Homo sapiens: one gene and its partners. The protein of the gene in region 1 purifies or fractionates together with the protein of each later gene. This does not show direct contact. Each region holds a gene or a part of one and is shown in the gene's direction. Other genes may lie near its edges. The genes, in order: SUGP1, ZC3H11A, RIDA, MYH8, CUEDC2 and THY1.

Evidence for each region.
Region 2: the proteins of SUGP1 (region 1) and ZC3H11A fractionate together in Homo sapiens (co-fractionation; one large-scale study listed by BioGRID). This does not show direct contact.
Region 3: the proteins of SUGP1 (region 1) and RIDA fractionate together in Homo sapiens (co-fractionation; one large-scale study listed by BioGRID). This does not show direct contact.
Region 4: the proteins of SUGP1 (region 1) and MYH8 purify together in Homo sapiens (affinity purification with mass spectrometry; one large-scale study listed by BioGRID and IntAct). This does not show direct contact.
Region 5: the proteins of SUGP1 (region 1) and CUEDC2 fractionate together in Homo sapiens (co-fractionation; one large-scale study listed by BioGRID). This does not show direct contact.
Region 6: the proteins of SUGP1 (region 1) and THY1 fractionate together in Homo sapiens (co-fractionation; one large-scale study listed by BioGRID). This does not show direct contact.

The regions. Positions count from the first base shown.
Region 1 is NC_000019.10:19,296,298-19,300,246, reverse strand, and holds part of SUGP1 (SURP and G-patch domain-containing protein 1), read left to right. Parts: intron 1-2,902; coding exon 2,903-3,258; intron 3,259-3,949.
Region 2 is NC_000001.11:203,826,244-203,830,192, forward strand, and holds part of ZC3H11A (zinc finger CCCH domain-containing protein 11A), read left to right. Parts: intron 1-2,055; coding exon 2,056-2,179; intron 2,180-3,207; coding exon 3,208-3,411; intron 3,412-3,536; coding exon 3,537-3,653; intron 3,654-3,879; coding exon 3,880-3,949. UniProt on the Homo sapiens protein: Through its association with TREX complex components, may participate in the export and post-transcriptional coordination of selected mRNA transcripts, including those required to maintain the metabolic processes in embryonic cells.
Region 3 is NC_000008.11:98,104,267-98,107,379, reverse strand, and holds part of RIDA (2-iminobutanoate/2-iminopropanoate deaminase), read left to right. Parts: intron 1-1,053; coding exon 1,054-1,108; intron 1,109-1,373; coding exon 1,374-1,442; intron 1,443-2,835; coding exon 2,836-2,891; intron 2,892-3,113. UniProt on the Homo sapiens protein: Catalyzes the hydrolytic deamination of enamine/imine intermediates that form during the course of normal metabolism. May facilitate the release of ammonia from these potentially toxic reactive metabolites, reducing their impact on cellular components.
Region 4 is NC_000017.11:10,415,137-10,419,085, reverse strand, and holds part of MYH8 (myosin-8), read left to right. Parts: intron 1-55; coding exon 56-199; intron 200-284; coding exon 285-441; intron 442-3,377; coding exon 3,378-3,405; intron 3,406-3,505; coding exon 3,506-3,614; intron 3,615-3,701; coding exon 3,702-3,794; intron 3,795-3,906; coding exon 3,907-3,949. UniProt on the Homo sapiens protein: Muscle contraction.
Region 5 is NC_000010.11:102,425,773-102,429,634, reverse strand, and holds part of CUEDC2 (CUE domain-containing protein 2), read left to right. Parts: intron 1-3,862.
Region 6 is NC_000011.10:119,420,099-119,424,776, reverse strand, and holds the start of THY1 (thy-1 membrane glycoprotein isoform 1 preproprotein), read left to right. Parts: upstream 1-1,604; 5' UTR 1,605-1,664; intron 1,665-1,988; exon of another isoform or gene 1,989-2,088; intron 2,089-2,214; exon of another isoform or gene 2,215-3,166; intron 3,167-3,847; 5' UTR 3,848-3,871; coding exon 3,872-3,908; intron 3,909-4,390; coding exon 4,391-4,678. UniProt on the Homo sapiens protein: May play a role in cell-cell or cell-ligand interactions during synaptogenesis and other events in the brain.

The DNA.
Region 1 (3,949 bases):
GAAATTAACTGGGCATGGTGTCATGTGCCTATAATCCCAGCTACTTGGGAGGCTAAGGCAGGAAAATCACTTGAACCCAGGAGGCAAAGGTTGCAGTGAGCCGAGATGATGCCATTGCACTTCAGCCTGGGTGACAGAGCAAGACTCCATCTCAAAAAATAAAAAATGAGGCTGGGCTTGGTGGCTCACACCTGTAATCCCAGCACTTTGGGAGGCCGAGGCAGGTGGATCACCTGAGGTCGAGAGTTCAAGAACAGCCTGACCAACGTGGAGAAACCCCGTCTCTACTAAAAATACAAAATTAGCGCATGCCTGCAATCTCAGCTACTTGGGAGGCTGAGGCAGGAGAATGGCTTGAACCCGGCAGGCGGAGGTTGCGGTGAGCCAAGATTGCACCACTGCACTCCAGCCTGGGCAACAAGAGTGAAACTCCATCTTGAAAAACAAAACAAAAAAAAAATGAAAAGCTGGAAACGCCCATCCCTTGGACTAGTCATTCTCCCATTTCTGAGATACATCCTGGAAATCATGTCAATAGAGCATCAGCTGTAATGAAAAGTCAGTAGGCCGGGTGCGGTGGCTCATGCCTGTAATCCCAGCACTTTGGGAGGCTGAGCGGGGTGGATCACGAGGTCAGGAGATCGAGACCATCCTGGCTAACACAGTGAAACCCCGTCTCTACTAAAAAATACAAAAAAAAAAAAAAATTAGCCGGGTGTGGTGGCGGGCGTCTGTAGTCCCAGCTAGTCAGGAGGCTGAAGCAGGAGAATTGCCTGAACCCGGGAGGCGGAGCTTGCAGTGAGCTGAGATTGTGCCACTGCACTCCAGCCTGGGCGACAGAGCAAGACTCCGTCTCAGAAAAAAAAAGGAAGAAAAAAAAGAAAAGTCAGTGACACAGTCAGCGTCCAACCTCTGTGGGTTAAATCATCAGCACATCTCCCCAGTGGAGTATGCCGCCTTCAGAAGGCACCCATGTGAGCTGGCAGCCCAGTGTGAGGGAACTGAAGCAAGGCCAGTCAGTGAACATGCTTCCACTGTTCTAATAGGAAAGGCTTATGTCATCAGCTTGAGGCAGAAATTTTTTTTAAAACTGGGATATGTATAGGATCACAGCTCTATTAAGATAAATCTTTGCTGAAACTGGCAGGAAACACCTTAACAGTGGTTATCCCTGGGTTCAGGGTGGGATTAGTTCCACCAGAGGGGAACCTTGGTGGTGCACCCAGCCGTGTTCTAGATGGGGTGTTGGGGGGCTCCACTTTCTCCCCCTCATGGGGGTCTACCATTGAGTGCCATTGTAACCCCCTCCCCGAGATGGGCAGACCCTCCAGGGGACTGTGATGCATCCTTGGACCATCCTGGAGGACACTCAGGGTGAAGCACCAGCTGAGACCAGGAAGGGGCCCCCACACCCCGATGCCTGCTCGCCCTAGCAAGTGAGCCTCCCCAGCTTGGCCTCTCAAATCCATGTCTGAACTCACCCGGCTGTCAAGTGTCTTTTCCAAATCTGACCAACTGTTCCCTTCTCTCCTGAACAGTTGTTGCTTTTACCTCTTAATCTTTGCATATGTTCCTCACTGGGTCACACGTGTACCATGACCCAGGATTACAGAGAAGATGCTGTCATCTCCTGTCCTTCTGTCCCACCCTCTTGAGGTACCGGATGTTAGCAGGGCCGTAGACACACAGGCTCACCTAGAAACTGTCTAAGGGGTCTCTTGCTGCTCGCTCACTATTTATCTTATTTTTTTGAGATGGAGTCTCACTCTGGTCCAGGCTGGAGTGCAGTGGCCCAGTCTTGGCTCACTGCAACCTCCGCCTCCCAGGTTCGCGTGATTGTCCTGCCTCAGCCTCCCGAGCAGTTGGGACTACAGGCGTGTACCACCACGCCCAGCTAATTTTTTTATTTTTAGTACAGACGGGATTTCACCATGTCGGCCAGGCTGGTCTCGAACTCCTGACCTCAGGTGATCTGCCCGCCTCGGCCTCCCAAAGAGCTGGGATTACAGGCGTGAGCCACCGCGCCCGGCCTCTGTAACACAAAGGGACTTCACAGCATCCTTGACCCTTTAATTCACATTAGTTGCACGCCTTGGTGCTATGACCATCCCTCCAGATTCACAAGTGCAGGTCCAGCCCCATCTTGTTCAGCACTGTAACATGCTTTCAGGGCTGTACATGCATTCAGTTCTCTCCCGTGTTCTGCCATGTGGAGCTGGGCCAAGACTCTCCCTTTTGGCATAGACCCCAAAGACAGTCCTGTGGACTGGGGATGTGTACGGTCCGAGAGGCGCCAGTAGGTGCGGAACATGGCTCTGAACCCAGCGCCACCTGCTGTGCTCCTCAGGCTGGGTAGGGACAGAGAAGACCTGTGCTCCCAGCCTCACTGGAAGCCACACTTCCCTGAGGCTGCCTGCCCCCACGTGGGGTAGAAATCAGCTCCTTGGTCCGTTCTGATGTTCATTGTCTCAAAGATGCATTTGAGAAGCCCTTGGGATCAAGACAAGTCCCTCTGCCCTGTCTCGTGTCTGGTGTCTCCCCACAATCTGAGATTTTTTGGTGTGAATGTCTCACTTTTCCCAGGCCCTGGGGAAGGGTCTGAGGGTCCCTGCCCTTTCCCTTTGTAGCAGGGTGAACAATGACAGTGTGATGGGTGCCTGATAAAGACAGGGTGAGGATTGGAGTGACTCAGTTCAAAGGAAGGGCATCGGGCCACCAGAACCAGCAGTCACTGCCAGGAGGCCTGGCAGGGCAGGAGGTCATGGTGGAGACCGTGACTATGACATGACCATATAGTGACCCTGGCCAACGTGGGCACACAAGGCCAGAACTGCTCCTGCCCAGAATCAGGGACAGGGCCTCGGGCCCAGCTGACACTGCACCCCCCAACTCTCCTTTGCAGCTTTCTGTATGAGCCCAATAGCCAAGGGTACAAGTACTACCGACAGAAGCTGGAGGAGTTCCGGAAAGCCAAGGCCAGCTCCACAGGCAGCTTCACAGCACCTGATCCCGGCCTGAAGCGCAAGTCCCCTCCTGAGGCCCTGTCAGGGTCCTTACCCCCAGCCACCACCTGCCCCGCCTCGTCCACGCCTGCGCCCACTATCATCCCTGCTCCAGCTGCCCCCGGGAAGCCAGCCTCCGCAGCCACCGTGAAGAGGAAGCGGAAGAGCCGGTGGGGGCCTGAAGAGGATAAGGTAGAGCTCCCACCTGCTGAACTGGTGCAGAGGGACGTGGATGCCTCTCCCTCGCCTCTGTCAGGTGGGCAGACCCTCTCCCCCTCCCTGTGTTGGAAGGGTCTGACTTCTTTCACTGAGCATAATGTCTTCAAGGTTCATCCACAGTGTAGCTTGTATCAGAATTTCATTCCTTCTGTGGCCATATCTTCCACTGTGTGTACATACCACATTTGGCTTACCCACTCATCTGTGAATGAACTCTTATATTCACAGAGGTTGTTTACACTGCTTGGCTGTTGTGAATAATACTGCTGTGACTATCTGAATCGTTTTCAGTTCTCTTGTCGGTATACCTAGGTGTGGAATTGCTGGGCCTATTGCAATTCTGCCTTTTTTTTCTTTTTTCTTTTTTCTTTTTTTTTTTGAGACAGAGTCTCGCTCTGTTGCCCAGGCTGGAGTGCAGTGGTGCGATTTCAGCTCACCATAAGCTCTGCCTCCTGGGTTCACACCATTCTCCTGCCTCAGCCTCCTGAGTAGCTGGGACTACAGGTGCCCGCCACCATGCCCGCCTAATTTTTTGTATTTTTTAATAGAGATGGGGTTTTACTGTGTTAGCCAGGATGGTCTCTATCTCCTGACCTCGTGATCTCCCGCTTCGGCCTCCCAAAGTGCTGGGACGTAGAGATGGGGTTTCACCATGTTGGCCAGGCTGGTTTCGAACTCCTGACCTCAGATGATCCACCCGCCTCAGCCTCCCAAAGTGCTGTGATTAC
Region 2 (3,949 bases), on another chromosome or scaffold:
TTATTTTTACTGCTCCTTGTGGAGCAGGGCCACTCTATAGGTAGTGTGCCCACAGTAGCCTATACTTTTAAAAAATATTATACTTTTAGAAAATATCAATAATATTAAAATTAATAAATAAATATTGATTAATAATAATTAATTCTTTTTAAAAATTATACTTTAAAAATATTAATAGGTAATTATGCATATGACATAAACTTAGAACATAGTTTTAAAAAACTGATTTTGCCAAATCACCTTTCAGAGATGTGGAGCAAATTTACATTTCCATTATGTGTTTGAGACTGCCTGATTCTTCCACGTCCCTGAAAACAGTGTATAATTGAATTTTATCACTCTCTCAATATAGTAGATTTTGACCTTTGCCCTTTTTGATACATTTAAGCATCTTTTTGTAATGGTTATTGTTTCTCTGTCTCTCTTCTCCATATTCTTAAATTTCAATGCTGGTGTTTTTTCCTGGAATTTTAAACCATAGGCTGTTTATGATGATTAGAGATTCGACATAATGCAGTTCATCGGAGGTTAGTTAGTTTTTGGGAGTACTTCTCATATCTTTTTTCCCCCTTTTTTGAACTATTAAAATGTATCTAGAAAAGTGCAAAATCGTAATCTTACAACTTGAAGAATTTTCATAGAGTGATTATACTTACTTGATCAGCACCTAGTTCAAGAAATAGAGTATTAGCAGTAATCTATCTTCCCCTTCATCCCCTTGTTACTAACCACATCCCCAAAGCTGATCAGCATCCCAACTACTCTACCATGGAGAAGTTTTGACTGTTTTCATCTTTTCATAAATGGAATGGTATAGTATGCACTCTTGTGTCTGGCTTCTTTCATTTCACATCTGTGGCATTGAGTATAGCAATGGTTTATTCCTTCTCATTACTAGATGATATTCTGTTGTACGAATACTTTACAGTTTCTTTATCCATTCTAGTATTGATGTACACATGGGTTTGCAAAATTATAGAGCTATTGAAAATAATATTGCTGTGAACATTGCTTATACACAGCTGTTGGAGAACTAATGTATATATTTTTCTAGGACATACATCCTATGATTCAGCAGTTTATTCTATTCTAGATGCACAGGTATTCTTTTTTTTTTTTTTTCTCCCAATTTTCCTTTATAAAAGTAAGGTGACTGGCCGGGTGCGGTGGCTCACACCTGTAATCCCAGCACTTTGGGAGGCTGAGGCGGGCGGATCACGAGGTCAGGAGATCAAGACCATCCTGGCTAACATGGTAAAACCTCTTATCTACTAAAAATACAAAAAAAATTAGCCGAGTGTGGTGGCAGGCACCTGTAGTCCCAGCTACTCTGGAGGCTGAGGCAGGAGAATGGCGTGAACCCGGGAGGCGGAGCTTGCAGTGAGCGGAGATCGCGCCACTGCACTCCAGCCTGGGTGACAGAGCAAGACTCTGTCTCAAAAAAAAAAAAAAAGTAAGGTGACTTGGGAAGGATACCTAACATCCTTAGTGTGTTGTTATAGGTGCCTTACTTTGAGAATTCATGAATGGGAAGAATTTTCTCAAACCCTTGAACTCTCAGCTTCAAGTAATAACTGCAGTTTATTGAGTTTGACCTATGTGCTTAGTGCTTTATATACATTATTTTATGTACTCTTCATAAGAAACCATTTATTCCCGTTTTATAGCTAAGGAAAGTGAGGCTTAGAGGCATGAATTATCCAAGGCCACCTGGCCAATAAGTAACATAATAGAGATTCAGACCGTTATCTTTGATTTCATAAACTTAAACTACTGTATCATCCTGCTTCTCTAAATTAAGTGTAGACATTTTAGGGGTTCCAGGATGAGGGTAAAAAGGGAAAGAATAACATAAACTACTCTCCTGCTCCATTCAGCTCTCCATCATGCCTAAGTTATGTTATTTTCAGCAATCTCTCTTCCTTCTAAAAATCATCTCATCTCACATGCCTCGGATTTTTGAACCCTGTATGAACTTTGTCTAGAAAACAAACTGCCACATGAATATACGTATCACTGTTTTATTTGAAAGCAATGTGTTTTTCCCTCTTACAGAAAAAACGCAGTGAAATTCCTTGTTATTGGGAAAATCAGCCAACAGGATGTCAAAAATTAAACTGCGCTTTCCATCACAATAGAGGACGATATGTTGATGGCCTTTTCCTACCTCCGAGCAAAAGTGAGATCAGTTTTTAATTTTAAAAGAATATCAAATGAACACCTATTATGCACACTGTACAACAGTACTTTTCAGACATTGACTCCTTTCAGTCTTGTGAAACAGCAGAATTATTTCCACTTTACAGATAAGTGAACTGAATCTTATTAAGGTTAAATGATTTATCCTTGGCCTTAGAACCATTATATATCTTGGCATGCCATTTAAGTTATTATACTTACTTCATTTCTCATATTCTTATCAGACCCATAAACGTTTTCAAAATAAATTTGATTTTCTAGGTCAAAGGTTGGCAAAACTGGTCCTCTGCCTGTTTTGTAAAATAAGTTTTATTGGAATATAGCCTTGCCCATTCATTTACATATTTTCTATTATCAGTTTTGTGCTAGTGCTATAGAATTGAGTAGTTGAGACAGAAACCATATGGCCCACAAAGCCTAAATTATTAACTGGCTCTTTACAGAAAATATTTGCCAACCCTACTCTAGACTATAATCTAAAATAAAACTAAAAAGCTAGTGGTTATTCCCAAAGTTCATTTTAAAGTAATTTAAAAGTGGAATTGGCCATTTAAAAGCCACAGTTGCTACGTGATTAAAATTTGATGGCTACATCTTTTTACCTCAATTTAAGGGAAAAAAGTAGACTTATTCCTTTCTGGTTTGGTTCAAGTAAGTGTCATATGCTTGGGTCTTAGAAGCTACTTCTTTGCTGAGCAAAAAGCCTAGAATTGCAGTATTAAAATTAAAGGTCTAGAATTTGTGAACAGGTACTATGCTTCTTCTAGTCTTCTGTTGATTCTGTTTTGAGTGCCCACTTTGTGTTTATGTACAGTGGAGAGTTAGTGGAGAGTTAATTAGGTAAAAGCACATCTTTTCCCTCCCTGGGACTTTAGAACTTAAATGAGGAAATTTAGTATAAATGCTCATAAGACAAATACACTATAGTTTTCATAGGTGGTCAGGAATTTTTGGTAAGTTGGGGTTGTATCTTCTGTTTTTAATTTATGACTGATTTTGTGCGTTTAGCTGTGTTGCCCACTGTGCCTGAGTCACCAGAAGAGGAAGTGAAGGCTAGCCAACTTTCAGTTCAGCAGAACAAATTGTCTGTCCAGTCCAATCCTTCCCCTCAGCTGCGGAGCGTTATGAAAGTAGAAAGTTCCGAAAATGTTCCTAGCCCCACGCATCCACCAGTTGTAATTAATGCTGCAGATGATGATGAAGATGATGATGGTAAGTTCTGTCTGGCTCCTTCTTTAAGGCAAATAAATAGGGTCTCATAGTGAATTGGGCAGAATCAGGATTAAAGCTATAGGCGTATTTTTAATTGTGAATTTGCCTTAAATGTTGATATATAGATCAGTTTTCTGAGGAAGGTGATGAAACCAAAACACCTACCCTGCAACCAACTCCTGAAGTTCACAATGGATTACGAGTGACTTCTGTCCGGAAACCTGCAGTCAATATAAAGCAAGGTAAGAAGAGGCTAGATTGGTGCCTCTTATAGCACTGTTGAAACTACCTTTGAAATTTAGTTCACAATCATTGACCTCCCTCTTCTTTTTCCCATGCTACACGCATACTTACCTATACTTAGTTTCTGTTGATCATTTATTCAAAAATAAATGCCTGCTATGTACAGATAAAATACAAAGATGAAAAGGCTCCCGTTCCTCATAAAATTTCTATTTGAATTTTCAGGTGAATGTTTGAATTTTGGAATAAAAACTCTTGAGGAAATTAAGTCAAAGAAAATGAAGGAAAAATCTAA
Region 3 (3,113 bases), on another chromosome or scaffold:
GCTTATTTTTTGTATTTTTAGTAGAGACGGGGTTTTACCGTGCTAGCCAGGATGGTCTCGATCTCCTGACCTCATGATCCACCCACCTCAGCCTCCCAAAGTGCTGAGATTACAGGCATGAGCCTCCACACCCGGCCTAGCTGAAAGATTTTTAAAAACCTAAATATCCACTCATAAAGAACTGGTTGAATAAATTATGCTAGATCAATACAACTAAAGTAATGTGGAAAGATCTCCGAGGTAAATTGTTCCATGGTAATAAAACCAAGATGCAGAACAACATGCACAGTATGCTACCATGTGTGCTTGTGTGTTTAAAAATATGTAACATAAGCATTGACTGTACCTAGAAGGATATACAATAAATTAGGAACAGTGGTTACCTCTGAGGAGGGAAACTTGGGAGAGGGAGAGAGGGGTGAGAGATATCTTTACACGGTATATGCTTTTTTAATAGCTTTTGAGTTTTTTTGTTGTTGTTGTTGCCATATCCATGTATTACCTATTTAGAAGATTATTTTAAAAGACACAAGAATATAATGAAATATTGCATTGTGACCAGCAAAGTGGGAAGAGTGAATCCAAAAAAAGATAAATGTTTTTCCAGAAGCCAGTGTCTCCAACTGTTATATAATTTACTAATATTGTTTTTTTGAGAAAAAGGAAAAAGAACCCTTTGAAGTCAAATATTGCTTTAAAAGAAAATATGTTTTAATGCTTACTAGCTCATCCTTATCCTTGACGTGATATCGAATGAAGAACACCAGAAATTATTTCTGTGGACATTGGCTGAACAATTAACACATTTTAGCACTGAAGAAGGAACTTCAACCTAGTCTTTTTACGCACAAAAGGAGACAACATTTTCACCATATATCAGAAAGACTCATTCTATTAAAGGAAAGCCAAGAAACACACTTGTAAGCGAGTAGGGAGGATTTTTCTGCAACATAGGCTATTTAAGGAGGTATTAGTAAAAGATGATTAATTGAATTTAATTAAAGCTTTAAATCTAACATCAGTGACTTAGGCCTTTCTTGGCTTGGTTCACAGGCTCTTAAAAACATGGGTGAAATTCTGAAAGCTGCAGGCTGTGACTTCACTAACGGTGAGCAATTTGATATTATTTCACATTTCTTTTTGATATTTCTTTGGTCTTTTTGAAAAATATATGGCATCCAGTAAGATGCCGTGCCATATCTTTGTTGCTATTTAAAAGTTGTTTTAAATAGCAACTGTTCTACTTCACTTCTTTGGTCCCATTTCAGTCCCATTTTAATCAAGACAGTCTCAGATTCATACACTCTTTTTCTAAGTAATGTTTTGGGTCAGACCAAATAACTAAACCTAATGACAATGTTTATATCTTCTAGTGGTGAAAACAACTGTTCTTCTGGCTGACATAAATGACTTCAATACTGTCAATGAAATCTACAAACAGTGTAAGTAATTTGGCTTTATTCCTATTTTCCATTTTTAAAAAGAAAGAAATCTGGTCACATTAATGAATGTGCATTATGAATTAAGAGTGGTAGGAGATGCTAAAGAAATGGTCATAGATCTTAAAAGAATTAATAATCTGATTGGAAATATGTTGTATACCCCCCATGAAAAAGTTCTAAGACATTTCTATTGCATTCCCTAAAACAATATACTGAAATCCTACATATCCATTTTTCAAAAGCTTAATTTCATTAAATCCTTCTCAGGCTTTTTAAACTCTCCTAACAAGTTTTTTATGCATAGATTTTATTTACTGTGGCTGTATGGTGCAGCCACCATCTTTATCCTGGCTCTCTCAGACTCATTAGTTAGTTACTTAATATTTCTATGCCTTGGTTTTCTCATATGCAAAATGGAGATAATATACTCCTAACTTATAGGGTTGTTGGAATGATTAAATGAGTCAGTACAACATGTAAAGCACTTAGATGCTGGTGTGTTATAAGCACTGAGTAAATGTTAGCTATTATTAACATTGATGTTATAGTAGGGAAAATTGGTGTCCCCAACACCTAATGGGATGAGGCAAAGGTATAACTTGGAAAAAGCATCGTTACTTATTCTCTCCTGAAGAAATTATTAGAAAAGACCAAAGTTGGCAGAGGAAGTACTTGCCAAAATTTCTGGAGATGGGCACTTGTTCCCTATTTAGATAAATAGTTTATAAATATCACTTTAAAAACAAAACTCCATTCACATCAAACAAGATCAAAATGTTAGGGTATGTATTTCTTTTTTTTTTTTTTTTTTTTTTTTGCCAGAAAGCTAAGAGATTTTAAAAAGTATTAACTATCATAGGAATCATATGGCAAAATATTTTATCAAACAAATCTGATAGTGAGCCTCTTTTTTAAAATGTTGCTTAAGGCCAGGAGCAGTGGCTCACACCTATAATCCCAGCACTTTGAGAGGCTGAGGTGGGTGGATCACTTGACATTAGGAGTTTGAGACCAGTCTGGCCAACATGGTGAAGCCCCGACTCTACTAAAAATACAAAAATGAGCCAGGCATGGTGGTGCACACCTGTAATCCCAGCTACTCGGGAGGCTGAGGCAGGAGAATCTCTTGAACATGGGAGACAGAGGTTGCAGTAAGCTGAGATCGCATCACTTCACTCCAGCCTTGGGCGATAGAGCAAGACTCTGTTTCAAAAAAATAAAAATAAATGTTGCTTATATCTAAGAACTGACTAGTATATGAAATATTTGCCAGATTATTAATTGTAGATATTGAATAACAATAGAATATCTGAAAACTAAAATAAAAATTTTCACTTGATCTTTATTTTTTCAACTCTTCTCTATTAAAAAAATGAAATTCTTTTAAATTCAGATTTCAAGAGTAATTTTCCTGCTAGAGCTGCTTACCAAGTTGCTGCTTTACCCAAAGTAAGTACACTTTAAATGACTAATGTACACAGTTTTCAGTTTCTACATTGTTTTCCTTCTATAAGTAAACTAAGCACTGTGAAAGGAAACTTAAAAGAAGTAGCCTGGGCAGGGTGGCTTACCCCTGTAATCCCAGTGCTTTGAGAGGCCAACACAGGAGGATCGCTTGAGGCCAGGAGTTCTAGACCAGCCTGGGCAACATAGCAAGACAGCCATCCCTAC
Region 4 (3,949 bases), on another chromosome or scaffold:
AACTCTATCTCAAACAAACAAACAAAAACGAACTGGTTTCTTGCTTACTCACCAGACTCTAACTGTCAGGGAAGACCAAGTCTTCCCTATGAACCCTCCGAAATATGACAAAATTGAGGACATGGCCATGATGACTCATCTACACGAGCCTGGAGTGCTGTACAACCTCAAAGAGCGCTATGCAGCCTGGATGATCTACGTGAGTGTCTGTAAACACCTTTTTATTTCATGTCTCTCTCTGAGTAAAAACGAGATCCAAATGATAAATGTTCTGATCTTCCCAGACCTACTCAGGCCTCTTCTGTGTCACCGTCAACCCCTACAAGTGGCTGCCGGTGTACAAGCCCGAGGTGGTGGCTGCCTACAGAGGCAAAAAGCGCCAGGAGGCCCCGCCCCACATCTTCTCCATCTCTGACAATGCCTATCAGTTCATGTTGACTGGTGAGTGAGTGAGGCATCTATTTACAGAAATGTGTAAATAGAATCTTTGCAGAACAGACAGACCTCTTCCGAGCCTCTTTATGTTATGATAATACATTCTAGCCACATGGGGCTTCACTGTTTTCAAAAAACTTTCACAGCTGTGACATCTTATGCTCTTCCCAGCAGCTACCTCCATTTTACAGATGAGTAAAGTGAAGCTCACTGAATTCACTGTCCTTCCCAAGCTAACACAGATAGTTAAGTGGAAGCCTAGCTGAAACAATTACTAGACCACTGTAAACATATTTATTGTTTTCCATATTTTGTTACTTTCCAATTTGGATAGAAAAAAGTGTTCAAACAGACTTTTTAAAAATACCCAGGCTCACAGCAGTCAACGAAAAGAGTTATCAGCCACAGCTGGAAAACTTTGTGAATTCTTATGTTTATTTTTGAATGACACAGCTAATATTGCCAGCCTTTAAGGGTAAAACATGAGTAAAGAAAGCTATGATTTTCCTCCCAAAGATTTGAAGCACTTTCCTATTACAATGAAAGGAAAAAATCTTTTCTGAGAAAAATGTTTAAATTGTATCAAAGTCTGTTACTCCTGCCTTATCAAGGCATAAACAACCAGCTTTGATACGCATTATAGGCCCAAATACAGCATTAAAACCTTTTATCTTCACACACCAAATGCACTGCCTTTGGAAATACTTTCTATTCCTGAGTTTCCTGTTGTTCCATGGAATTTTGGAAACTAAGGTGTTTTTTCTTTCTTTTTGGTTTGTTTTTTTGCACTTGTTTTTAAATTGTCTTTTCGAGGGGGAGAATAAAGAGGAAGGAATAAAATAGGAATCTCCCATTACAAATTGGCCATCAATTCTACAAGGATTCTATGCCAGTAAACTGTTCTTTGATTGTCAACAGAAGCTAACTACCTCCCAGAAATTATCCAAACGCTGGCTCATTTCAGAGGTTTTAATACTCAACAGCTGCATTTACACAGCTATGTACACCACCCCTGTCCTCCCACTCAGCAAGCCCCCCGCTCCCCAGGGTTTGGGGCTGCTCCAAATTCAAGGTTACTTATGGCTCCCAAACATGATTTTTGTACAAAATGGTACAGAGCTCTAGCCTTTGAGCTGGTGAGTGTTATTTTAGCATTGCCAAGAGACCAGAACATTGTTTTCTCATCTGTGCTTCCACTAGATGTGATATAATCTTCCACGGTTTTACTTATACTAGAAAACAAATCTATCTGAATAGGATGCAAAATCTGCATCGACTTCCCTGAAGAGAAGGCTAAAGTTTTCTAAAGTCTATGTCTATATCTACATCTAAATAACATCCAGATTTATATCTATTTTCCCTGAATAGATTTTTAGGTTTTAGAATTCTCTAAAATCTATAATCTAACACTATAGAATTAGAGATTTAACAAATCAGCAAATTGATGTAAATACAACATATCAGTCACATAATTAGTGACATTTGTTTTTATTATTTAGAAATGCATATAAGATTAAAAGGAAAATAAAACAGATGAACACAAATATTCACAATTCCAGACCCCTTCCTTATTTAGTATTGCCAGAAGTCAAACTAGTGACATCAAAAGCTGGGAAGAGGCCAGGAGGATATATTTGACCTTAACTAGCTATGTACTTAATATTAGAAAAGTCACTTCCTCCTTTACAGGTCTCAGTTTCTTTATCCCTTAAATGTAAGAGTTGGCCTAAGCAATTTCTAAGATCTTTTATGCCTTCAAAATTCTGTAATTCTAATTGAAGTATTTATAAATACAATTATAAGATTCTGGGATTTTCTTTAAAATAATTCAGTGAGATTGGGATGAGGTATAGATGATATAAAATTGGCCAAATATTAATAACCATTGCATCTGTATGATGGGCACATGGGGATTCATTATATTATTGTCTCTACTTCTGTATATGTTTGAATTTTCCATAATAAATGTTTTAAAAATTAATCAAATATGTACCTTACACTCGTTAGGATGTTTACTATCAAAAAATCAGAAAATAACAAGTTTTGACAAGAACTGGAGAAATTAGAACTCTTGTACACTGTTAGTGATCATGTAAAATGATCAGCCACTGTGGAAACAGTATGGTAGTTCCTCAACAAATTAGAAATAGAATTACAGTATGATCCCACAATTCTACTTCTGAGTATATCCCCAAAAGAACTGGAAGCAGGGTCTGGAAGAGACATTTGTACAACTATGTTAATAGCAGCATTATTTACAATAGCAAAAACATGGAAGCAACCCAAGTGTCCATCAACAGATGAATGGATAAGCAAAATGTGGTATATACATGCAATAAGATATCCTGCCTTTAAAAGGAAGGAAACTCTGACATATGCTAAAATATGAATGAACCTTGAGGACACCATGCTGAGTGAAATAAGCCAGTCACAAAAAAGACAAATACTCTATGATTCCTCTTACATGAGGTACCTAGAGTAGTCAAATTCACAGAGGCAGAAAGTAGAATGGTGGGCGCCAGGGAATGGGAGGAGTAGGAGATGGGGAGTTAAGAGTTTAAGGGACACAGAGTTTCAGTTTGACAAGGTGAAAAGAATTACGGAGATGAAGGGTGATGATGATTTTACAACTTTATGAATGTACTTACTGCCAGTGATCTCTACACTTAAAAATGGTTAAGATGGTAAATTTTATGTTATGTGTATCTCATCGCAATTAAAAATTAATAAATACAAAAAGGAAGAGATGATTCTTTGCTTTCATTTTCACAAATTTTACACTGAGAAGCAATTGGCTATTTTGGAGGATAAACACAAAATCAAAACCAAAGGTGACATCTTCAAAAAGTTAAAAAGAACAAGCTGTGTTTGATCTGAACTGATTCAATACTCTTCATATTAAATATGCATTTTTTAACGGATGATTTTGAATTCTTTCACAGATCGAGAGAATCAGTCCATCCTGATCACGTATGTGATTTTTTTTCTTCTCTGATTTGCAAGGATTGTCTTAGATGTTGACAATGCAGGCCATAGTTCTCTGATCTCTTCTCTGATTTCTGTTTGACAGCGGAGAATCTGGTGCCGGAAAGACTGTGAACACCAAGCGTGTCATCCAATACTTTGCAACAATTGCAGTTACTGGAGAGAAGAAGAAGGATGAATCTGGCAAAATGCAGGTAGGTCTGATAGCCAGAGTCAAAACCTCTGTCAAGGCTCTCAGACATCTGGAGTCCCAGATGTGAGAACTGCTCCTTCCTTTGCAGGGGACTCTGGAAGATCAAATCATCAGCGCCAATCCCCTACTGGAGGCCTTTGGCAATGCCAAAACTGTGAGGAATGACAACTCCTCTCGCTTTGTGAGTCTCTTGGTCTCAACCCCTAACTTCCAGAGTAGCCACGTCTGAATTATTATTTCATTTGCATCTCTCTTTGTGTTTCAGTTTTCTAATACTAAATATTCTTTTCAAGGGTAAATTCATTAGAATCCACTTTGGTACTACAGGGAAGCTGG
Region 5 (3,862 bases), on another chromosome or scaffold:
TCAGGGCCCATGAGGGCTCTGGCGCAGGTGGTATGAATTCCCCTGGTAGGCTGGGGCTTCTCAGTCCTGCTTTCCAAAGTGACCCCTGTGCTATGAGCAACTCTGTTACCACTCGGGACCAGGCAACTGTAAGCATAGAAGGTAGCCCTGTCCCAACCCACTTGAAAGTCTTGATATCCTCCCTTCCCCAGAGTAGCCCCTAGAATAGATGCTGAACTAGGTGACCTGGATTTAAATCTGACTACCGCAGTCAAGCCAGGTGACTCTGGGCAAGTCATTAAACACACTGAACTTCATTTCTTCATAGGTAAATTGGGGTTCAACTGTTTATTGAGTGCCCACTTCATGAGAGATGCTGAGTATACACTGGTGAATGTCAGCCCGGTGTTTAGTCCCTGCTTCATGAGACAACTGGAAGAAACATTAAACATTGTCCAAATAATAATTATGGCTGTGAAAGGTGCTGCTAGTCAGAAAACTTGCAGCCTGCATAGAGAGTGTAATATGGCAGGGCCCAAATGAGTTCTAGGTCAGGGGTGATGTCCCTTGAGGAAGAAGGGAATTATTTTATTTTTATTTGAAAATATTTTTCTTTTCTTTTTTTTTTTTTTTTGAGACAAAGTCTCACTCTGTCGTCCAGGCTGGAGTGCAGTGGTGCAATCTCGGCTCACTGCAACCTCCGCCTCCCAGGTTCATGTCATTCTCCTGCCTCAGCCTCCTGAGTAGCTGGGACTACAGGCGCGTGCCACCACACCCAGCTAATTTTTGTATTTTTAGTAGAGACGGGGTTTCACTGTGTTAGCCAAGATGGTCTTGATCTCCTGACCTCGTGATCCAACCCCCTGGGTCTCCCAAAGTGCTGGGATTACAGGCATGAGCCTCCGTGCCTGGCCTAAAAATATTTTTCTACAAAAAGAGAGATGGGGTCTTGATATGTTGCCGAGGCTGGTCTTAAACTCCTGAGCTCAAACGATCCTCTTGCCTCAGCCTCCCAAAGTGCTGGAATTACAGGCATGAGGCACCGTGCCCAGCCAAGGAAGGGAATTTTAAAATGAGACCCAAAAGATCAGAGTGACAGTAAGTGAAGGGGTGGAGGCAGAAGGGTGCCCAGGCAGAGGAAATAGTTTGTGTACCCTAGCACCTAGAAAAATGCCCGTGCTGGCTAGGTGCTCAATACATACTTGTTGACATGTTCCATTCCCATCTACATGCTTTTAACTCCCAAAAGTCTGTTTGGGAGTCAGGAGCATGTGGGTGGTAATGAATGGCTCCAGACCCATAGGTCCAAATGGCAGCTCATTGTCCCACTCAGATGATGAGGCAGAAGGCTCAGAGGGTATACTACCTTGCCATGAAAGAGTTTGAGTGTTAGCAAACTGAAAGAAAGCCAGGGTGGGGCCGGGTGCTTTGTCATGCCTGTAATCCCAGCACTTTGGGAGGCCAAGGCAGGTGGATCACCTGAGGTCAGGAGTTCAAGACCTGCCTGGCCAACATGGTGAAACCCTGTCTCTACTAGAAATACAAAAATTAGCCAGGTGTGGTGCACATGTCTGTAATCCCAGTTACTCGGGAGGCTGAGGCAGGAGAATCGCTTGAACCCAGGAGGCAGAGGTTGCAGTGAGCCAAGATGGCACCACTGCACTCTAGCCTGGGCAACAGAGTGAGGCTGTCTCAAAAACAAAACAAAACAAACAAACAAACAAAAAACAAAGCCAGGGTGGAGGGAGGGAAATGATCCAGGAAGGTATGGTGCATGGTGAAGCTGGAGAGAGATATAGACAGGGTAAGGACGGCAATGGAAAGCCATGAAAAGATTCTGGACTTCCCTGAAGGGTAGCAGGAAGGCATTGATAGATTTTAAGCAGGAAAAGATGTGATTTTTTTGTAAAGATCACACAGCTGTGGTGTGGAGAATAGGTTGTTGGGGGGAAGATGGAGTGGGGAGAAGGGTTAGGAAGTTCTTGCAGGCAAGAGATGGAGAAAAGTGGGAGTAGAGATGGAGAGAAATAGATGTGGCAAGAGATAATGATTAGGGCTTGGCGACTGATTGGATGAGGGAGAGCAAGGGGTAGGATGGTGTCAAGGATATTTCCCAGATTTGTGGCAGGAACAGCCGGGTGCCTGGACATGCATTTACTGAGAATGGCCTTGGAGGAGTAAAGCACTTGAGAGAACATTAGTTTGGGACACGCTAACTGTGAGATGCCTGTAAAACATACACGTGGCAGTGTTAGAGAGGTAGATGTCCAAGCCTGTAGCTCAGAGGAGACTGGACTAGAGGACTGGACATTTGGGAATTGATGACATGGCATTGGTACATAAAGATGTGGGCCCAGATGAGATCTTCCAGAGAGAGAGAGAGCGCTGCAGTGAGAAGGAGAGGCAGCCTTGCATGTGAGGAACTCCCACATTTAGAGGGGAGCAGAGAAGGGGACAGAGAAAGGGCCTTCGAAGAAATGGCCAGAGAGGTAGAAGGAAACCAGGAAAGAATGGCATCTCAGAAACCAAAGTTGGAGCTGCTGAAAGGGCAAATAGAAGGTGAAATCATGAGAAATTCCCCCCTTTTTTTTTGTAGATCAAAACCAGACAAAATTGGCAAGCTCATATGGTTCAACCTAATTAGACTAAAACCTGGAAAAAGTAACTGATGACCTCAGTCTAAGAAATTTTGAGGCCGGGCACGGTGACTCATGGCTGTAATCCCAGCACTTTGGGAGGCTGAGGTGGGCGAACTGCTTTGAGCCCAGGAGTTCGAGACCAGCCTGGGTCTCGAACCCTGGACTCAAAACATGGCAAAACTGCATCTCTACTAAAACAAACAAACAAACAACAACAACAAAAAACTAGTAGGTGGTGTGTGCCTGTAGTCCAGCTACTCCGGAGGCTAAGGCAGGAGGATGGCTTGAGCTGGGGAGATGGAGGTTGCAGTGAGCCGAGATCATACCACTGCACTCCAGCCTGGGTGACAGAGCCAGACCCTGCCTAAAAAAAAGAAAAAGAAGAAATTTTGGTGGAGATTTTGGAGCAGAAGCCAGACTCAGGATAGGGAGAAGTGGATACAATGCAGATAAGAAGGAAAGAAGGAAATAGAATTGACAGACTTGGTGATTGACTGGTAGGGGTGAAAGAGGGCAAAATCAAGGGTAATCCCCAGGTTTCAGCTTTGGCAGCTGAGTGAGTGGTGTCAGCTGATGAAGCAGATGTGTGTTTGGAGGGGGATGTGCGCAGATCAGTAGTCTATGATGAGTGTGAGGTGCGTGGAACTGGTGGTGCCTCGGAGCCTTCTGAGTGGGATGATGAGCTGGCATTTGGACCTATGGGTCTGGAGCCATTCATTACCACCCATATGCTCCTGACTCCCAAACAGACTTTTGGGAGTCAAAAGCATGTAGATGGGAATGGAGCATGTCAACAGGTATGTATTCAGCACCTAGCCAGTATGGGCATTTTTCTAGGTGCTAGGGTTACACTCATGAATAAGACAGAGTGTCCCCCTCATCCCCACCTTGCTTTGGAGCTTCCATTTTATGGGGGCAGACAGACAATAGGCAAATAAGCACAAAATAATGTTAATGGTAGTAAGTGCTATGTAGGGTTAAGGGGCATGGAGAAGACTTACTTGCCATAGGTTAGTCAGGGAAGGGCTCTCTGAGGAGGTAACATTTGAGCGGAGCCCTGAGGAGTGACTGGACGAGCCATGGATGTCCCGCAGGACACAGACAGGAGGAAGCTCAGCAAGTCTGAGGGACAGAAGGTGGGGTGGGAGCAAGCTAGGGAGGAGGGACTGGGGAGGCTGGAGAGCTGGGAGAGGGCCAGATCTGTGGGCTCCTCAGGCCTTGGGGAGGAGGATGGAAAGTGCTGT
Region 6 (4,678 bases), on another chromosome or scaffold:
TATGAAGAGGGACAGTCTTACCAGATCATGTGTTAGAGTCCCCAGATCCTGGGGAGCGTGAGAAAAGTGCAGACTCAGCTGGCTCTAGTACTAGATTAAGGAGGTCCTAGGTGGGCAAGGCCAGCTGCATTTTTCATAAAATGCCCTAGAAACCTCTGCAGTTTACCAAAGTGAATAGCTCCTTTGGACTTAACCATCTGCAAGGCTCATTCCAGTTAGAGTGTTCCATCACCCTAAATGCTGGGAAACCAAGCGAATCTCCTCCCACTTGCAAGCTTCCAACAGTGGCTTCCAACAGTGCCACTGCAGTATCAGAAACTGCAGGGAAGGTGCCAGGGCTGACTTCCATGAAGAAATAGGAGAACAGGCAGGCAGACATTGGGGAGGCCCACAGAATGTCGTGATCAGAATTCATAAAGAGGCTGGCAGGATACAAATCAATCAAATAAACGTTAGTTCAAAAAAATTCACTACACCTGTGAGTGAGAGAAAGTCATCAGCACTGTCTCTAAAAATGAGCCTAGGGCTTCTGGTGACATCCAATCGGTGGGTTATCAGGAGTGCCCCAGGTGATCAGGAGTTGGCCTCGACTCAGTCCTTTTTGTGCTGTCTCCTCCTCTTTCCCAGAGTTCCTCTCTCTCTTCTCCCACTAGGCAGGGATGAGCAAGAGGAATGGCTCACCCTTGAGAGCTGGGGTCCATAGCCCAGGTCAGTTCTCCAGCTCTCCCACTTACCAGCCAAGACAGGAGGTGAGGATTGAGATGGGATGAACCCAGCAGGCGGCCATGGGTTAAAGGTCGCCATGAATGTAATGTGCCCAGCACAGTGCCTGCTAAAAGGCAACACTCCCTTCCTGGTCTGAAGACCAAACAAGCAGACTGTACTCAGGAAAGCCAGAAGAACCTTCCAGCTGTCTGGACCAGAAGGTGCCAGCCCAGGGGCTGAAGAAGACGTAATGCCCAGAGCAAAAAGCGCCTGCAGCCCCCTGAAGGGCTGGGTGCTCTGGAATAGATGAGGGGGCGAAATGGGGCTGGGGACCAGGGACGGACAGGGTGGGTCCAGCACCTGCCTCGCTTCCGAAGGGCTGCTCCAACACTGAAAAACACCCAACCAGCTTCCTTTCAGAAAGACTGGAATATTCCAAAACTTCTCACTGGAGGCTCCGGAGGAGGTGGGCTCCAGCTGAAAAGGAAATGTGGAGGCGTGGGCGCTCCCGGCCTGCATCCTGCACCTCTTACACTTTGGTTTTCCCACAGACTCCTGAAGAATAGGTCAGAAGAAAGGGTTAAAGCCTTAAAAGGGGAACAACCATTGCGGGGCTCAGGGAGGAGGATAATGTTCTTTGGGCTGCCGCACCCTGATCCCCGGGGTCCCGAACCCTCCCGTCCCTGGCCAGGCCTGCCAGCCACAGGGTGAGGGCCCCCTTCCGCCGCAACCTGCCACTCTCACACCAATGCGGGACCGCCTTCTCTTCCTTCCCCACCCCCCACCCCACCCTGCCGTCCTTTCTCCCCCAATCTCCGCCTCTGATTGGCTGAGCCCCCGGCTCCCCGCTCCCCCTCTCCTCCATCCCCGGTGAAAACTGCGGGCTCCGAGCTGGGTGCAGCAACCGGAGGCGGCGGCGCGTCTGGAGGAGGCTGCAGCAGCGGAAGACCCCAGTCCAGGTGGGAACTGGAGCCGGTGGGACCTGGGGCTCGGGGACCGCCGTCAGGCGCCCATGCAAGACTTCCCAACACTAGGCTTCGGGCCACGGTCCGAGGGCGCCCAGGGAAGAAGGGCGCAGAGCTTAGGGAGGGGCCTGCTTTCCAGGCAGGGGCGGGAGGGGGATGCTTCTGCAGGGCAGGGGCCGCGTGGCACCCTGATGTCTTTCGGGGAAGGCGCTCCCGGGCTTTCGCCCGCTGGGGGACTGGTGTCTGGGGCTGGGGCGCTGGAGAACAGGGAGGAAGGGCACCAAGGACAGCCTGTGGGTCTACATTCCACCCAGACGTCCCCAAACCCAGCTCGCAGAGGCGGGGAGGAGGACGGATGAAACTGCGGGGAGAGGATGGAGGATGGCGAGCTAGAGGGAATCTGCCGGGTGACCTCGCGGCGGGCTGGGTGCGGGGCACCGGAGGAGAAGGAAGCCGCAGTGCCGCAGGCGGGGACTGGGTGGAAGGCGGGCGGACGGGGGAGGGGAGAGCTGGAAAAGGATGAGAGAGGGGGAAGGGGGACTCATTTGGGAAAGGAGAGGATTGGAATACGGAAATGGATTAAGGATGAGGCCCGCCGGGGGCTTGAGAGGGAGGAAGAGCAGACCTTCTCTGGGTCTGGAGCCGCCTGAGGACACAGACCAGAGGAAATGAATACAGACTGCACCTCCCCAGCCGCTCTCCACCCCTCCCCTGGCTCTTCTACCCTCTCCAGCCCCAGACCCATTTCTTCCCTTTCTTGCTCTGGCCATTGCTCCCCCTTCCCCTCCTAGATCCCAAGCCCGCACAACATCTCAAACAAGAGTCCTCGATTCAAAAGCCAGATGCCGACCCCCCTTCCTCCTGGATCTGGCTCAGGGCAGCAGCTCCACCCCGGGACAGAGAGAGCATTGATTGTAGCTGCAGCCGCCGCGGGATCCTAGCCTCACCCGTCAAGGGGCTGAGCGCCAGGGACCCTGAACTCGTCTAGTGGTGCGCCCTGCGCACCCGGGCGCACTCAACCGAGGCAATGCCCTGCGCGCTCTCGCGGGTGCACGCCCCTTCTGTGGCCTCTCCTGGGCGAGCACTGCTCTGCAGATAGGCTAGACTACCGGCTCCGCGTCGCCTCGCCAAGGGTTGGTTCAGCCAAGGCTGCAAAAAACAAAAAAAGACCAGGCAGACAGCCTATCCAGGGTGGCTATTGAAACTGGGCTGGAAAACTGCAGTCCCAGGAACTCCAGAGAGCTGGACATTGGGAAGCATCCTTGGCTCACATACAATCGGAGATCACTATGTCTTTCTCTCCTCCAGGAACACGATTAGCTTGTGTCCTATCCAGATAGGAATAGATGCTCCCTATCTGGGAGCATCCTTAGCTATGGTGAATGGTATCTAGCCATCCACTGGGGATGGCGAGTGACTTAGGGATTTGTGTCTCACGTATATGAAGCAGTCATCGCCAGATGTTGGTTGTTTTTCTTAACCCCCATCATAACCCGGTGGGTATGTAAGATTCAGAGAGATTCATTCATTCATTCACAATAAATATCTTTGGAGTGTATGCTATATGCCAGTAATCTGCAAACGGAAACGGTTTTGAGCATTGGGGATTTTCTTCTGAACAGGAAATGGGAAGTCCCTAAATGGGGAGTCTTTGTTTAACAGATACAGAGTTTTACTTTGAAAGACAAAAAGAGTTCCGGAGATGGGCTGCATAGCAACGTGAATGTATCCAGCACTGCTGAATATACTGAATTTAAGTACTGAATTTAAATGGTTAAAATAGTAATTATTATGCTTTTTGTATTTTACCACGATTAAATTTTTTTTTTAAATACGAAGCCTCAGCCCTCATAGGTCTTATATTACCATACACTATGTTAATGTAAGAAGAGGAGAAAGAGTGGTAAAGTTACTTAAAGTCACCCAGCTAGTAAGTGCTCCATGGCCAAGCGCAGAAACACACCGTGACTGGGCTTGTTCTCCCTCCTTCCTTGCTTTCCCTGAGCAGGAAAGAGCCAGTGGCAGTATCATGTTCAGTGAGATGCAGGGACGAGAGGGGGAATGGAGAGAGGGACTTAGATGACTGCCATAGCCACTATGCCATGTTCCCAGGGACCCCCAGCCCTGGTGGTAAGTGTGGCACAGCTTGGCTGATTCCCATCCTGTTCCCACCCCAGATCCAGGACTGAGATCCCAGAACCATGAACCTGGCCATCAGCATCGCTCTCCTGCTAACAGGTACCCGGCATGGGGCAGGACTGGGGCTCCAGGCGCCCTGGCTTCCTTCCCTCCAGAGAAGCAGCTTCTCCCTCACAGTCTCAGAAAAGCGCAGGTGACAAAGAGAGGGCTCTTTTTCATCCTGAAGTCAGCCAATCCACCGCGCTGATATTCTGACGGCCTGAGGTGGTTTTTGAAAACACAGTTTGCTGAGCCCTCCTTCACACTATTGAACTAGAATCCCCAACTGAGAACCCGGAACCAGCATCAACTCCCTAAGATCTCCTGTCCTTGAAACACATTGATAGGATCCAAGGCTCAAGCAGAGTGGGGAGGGAGGCTGGGGTCTGCAAAGGAGAAGTGGGATCCCTGGGGTGGGGAAAGGCACTCAGAGAGCAGACCCCGGTCCCCTCCCTAGCCAGGCCCATCTCTCCACTTCAGGTGGGTGGGAGGCCCCTGTGCCGCAGGCCCCTCCAGTTTGAAGGAGGCACTGCTGGTGCCAGTCTTGCAGGTCTCCCGAGGGCAGAAGGTGACCAGCCTAACGGCCTGCCTAGTGGACCAGAGCCTTCGTCTGGACTGCCGCCATGAGAATACCAGCAGTTCACCCATCCAGTACGAGTTCAGCCTGACCCGTGAGACAAAGAAGCACGTGCTCTTTGGCACTGTGGGGGTGCCTGAGCACACATACCGCTCCCGAACCAACTTCACCAGCAAATACAACATGAAGGTCCTCTACTTATCCGCCTTCACTAGCAAGGACGAGGGCACCTACACGTGTGCACTCCACCACT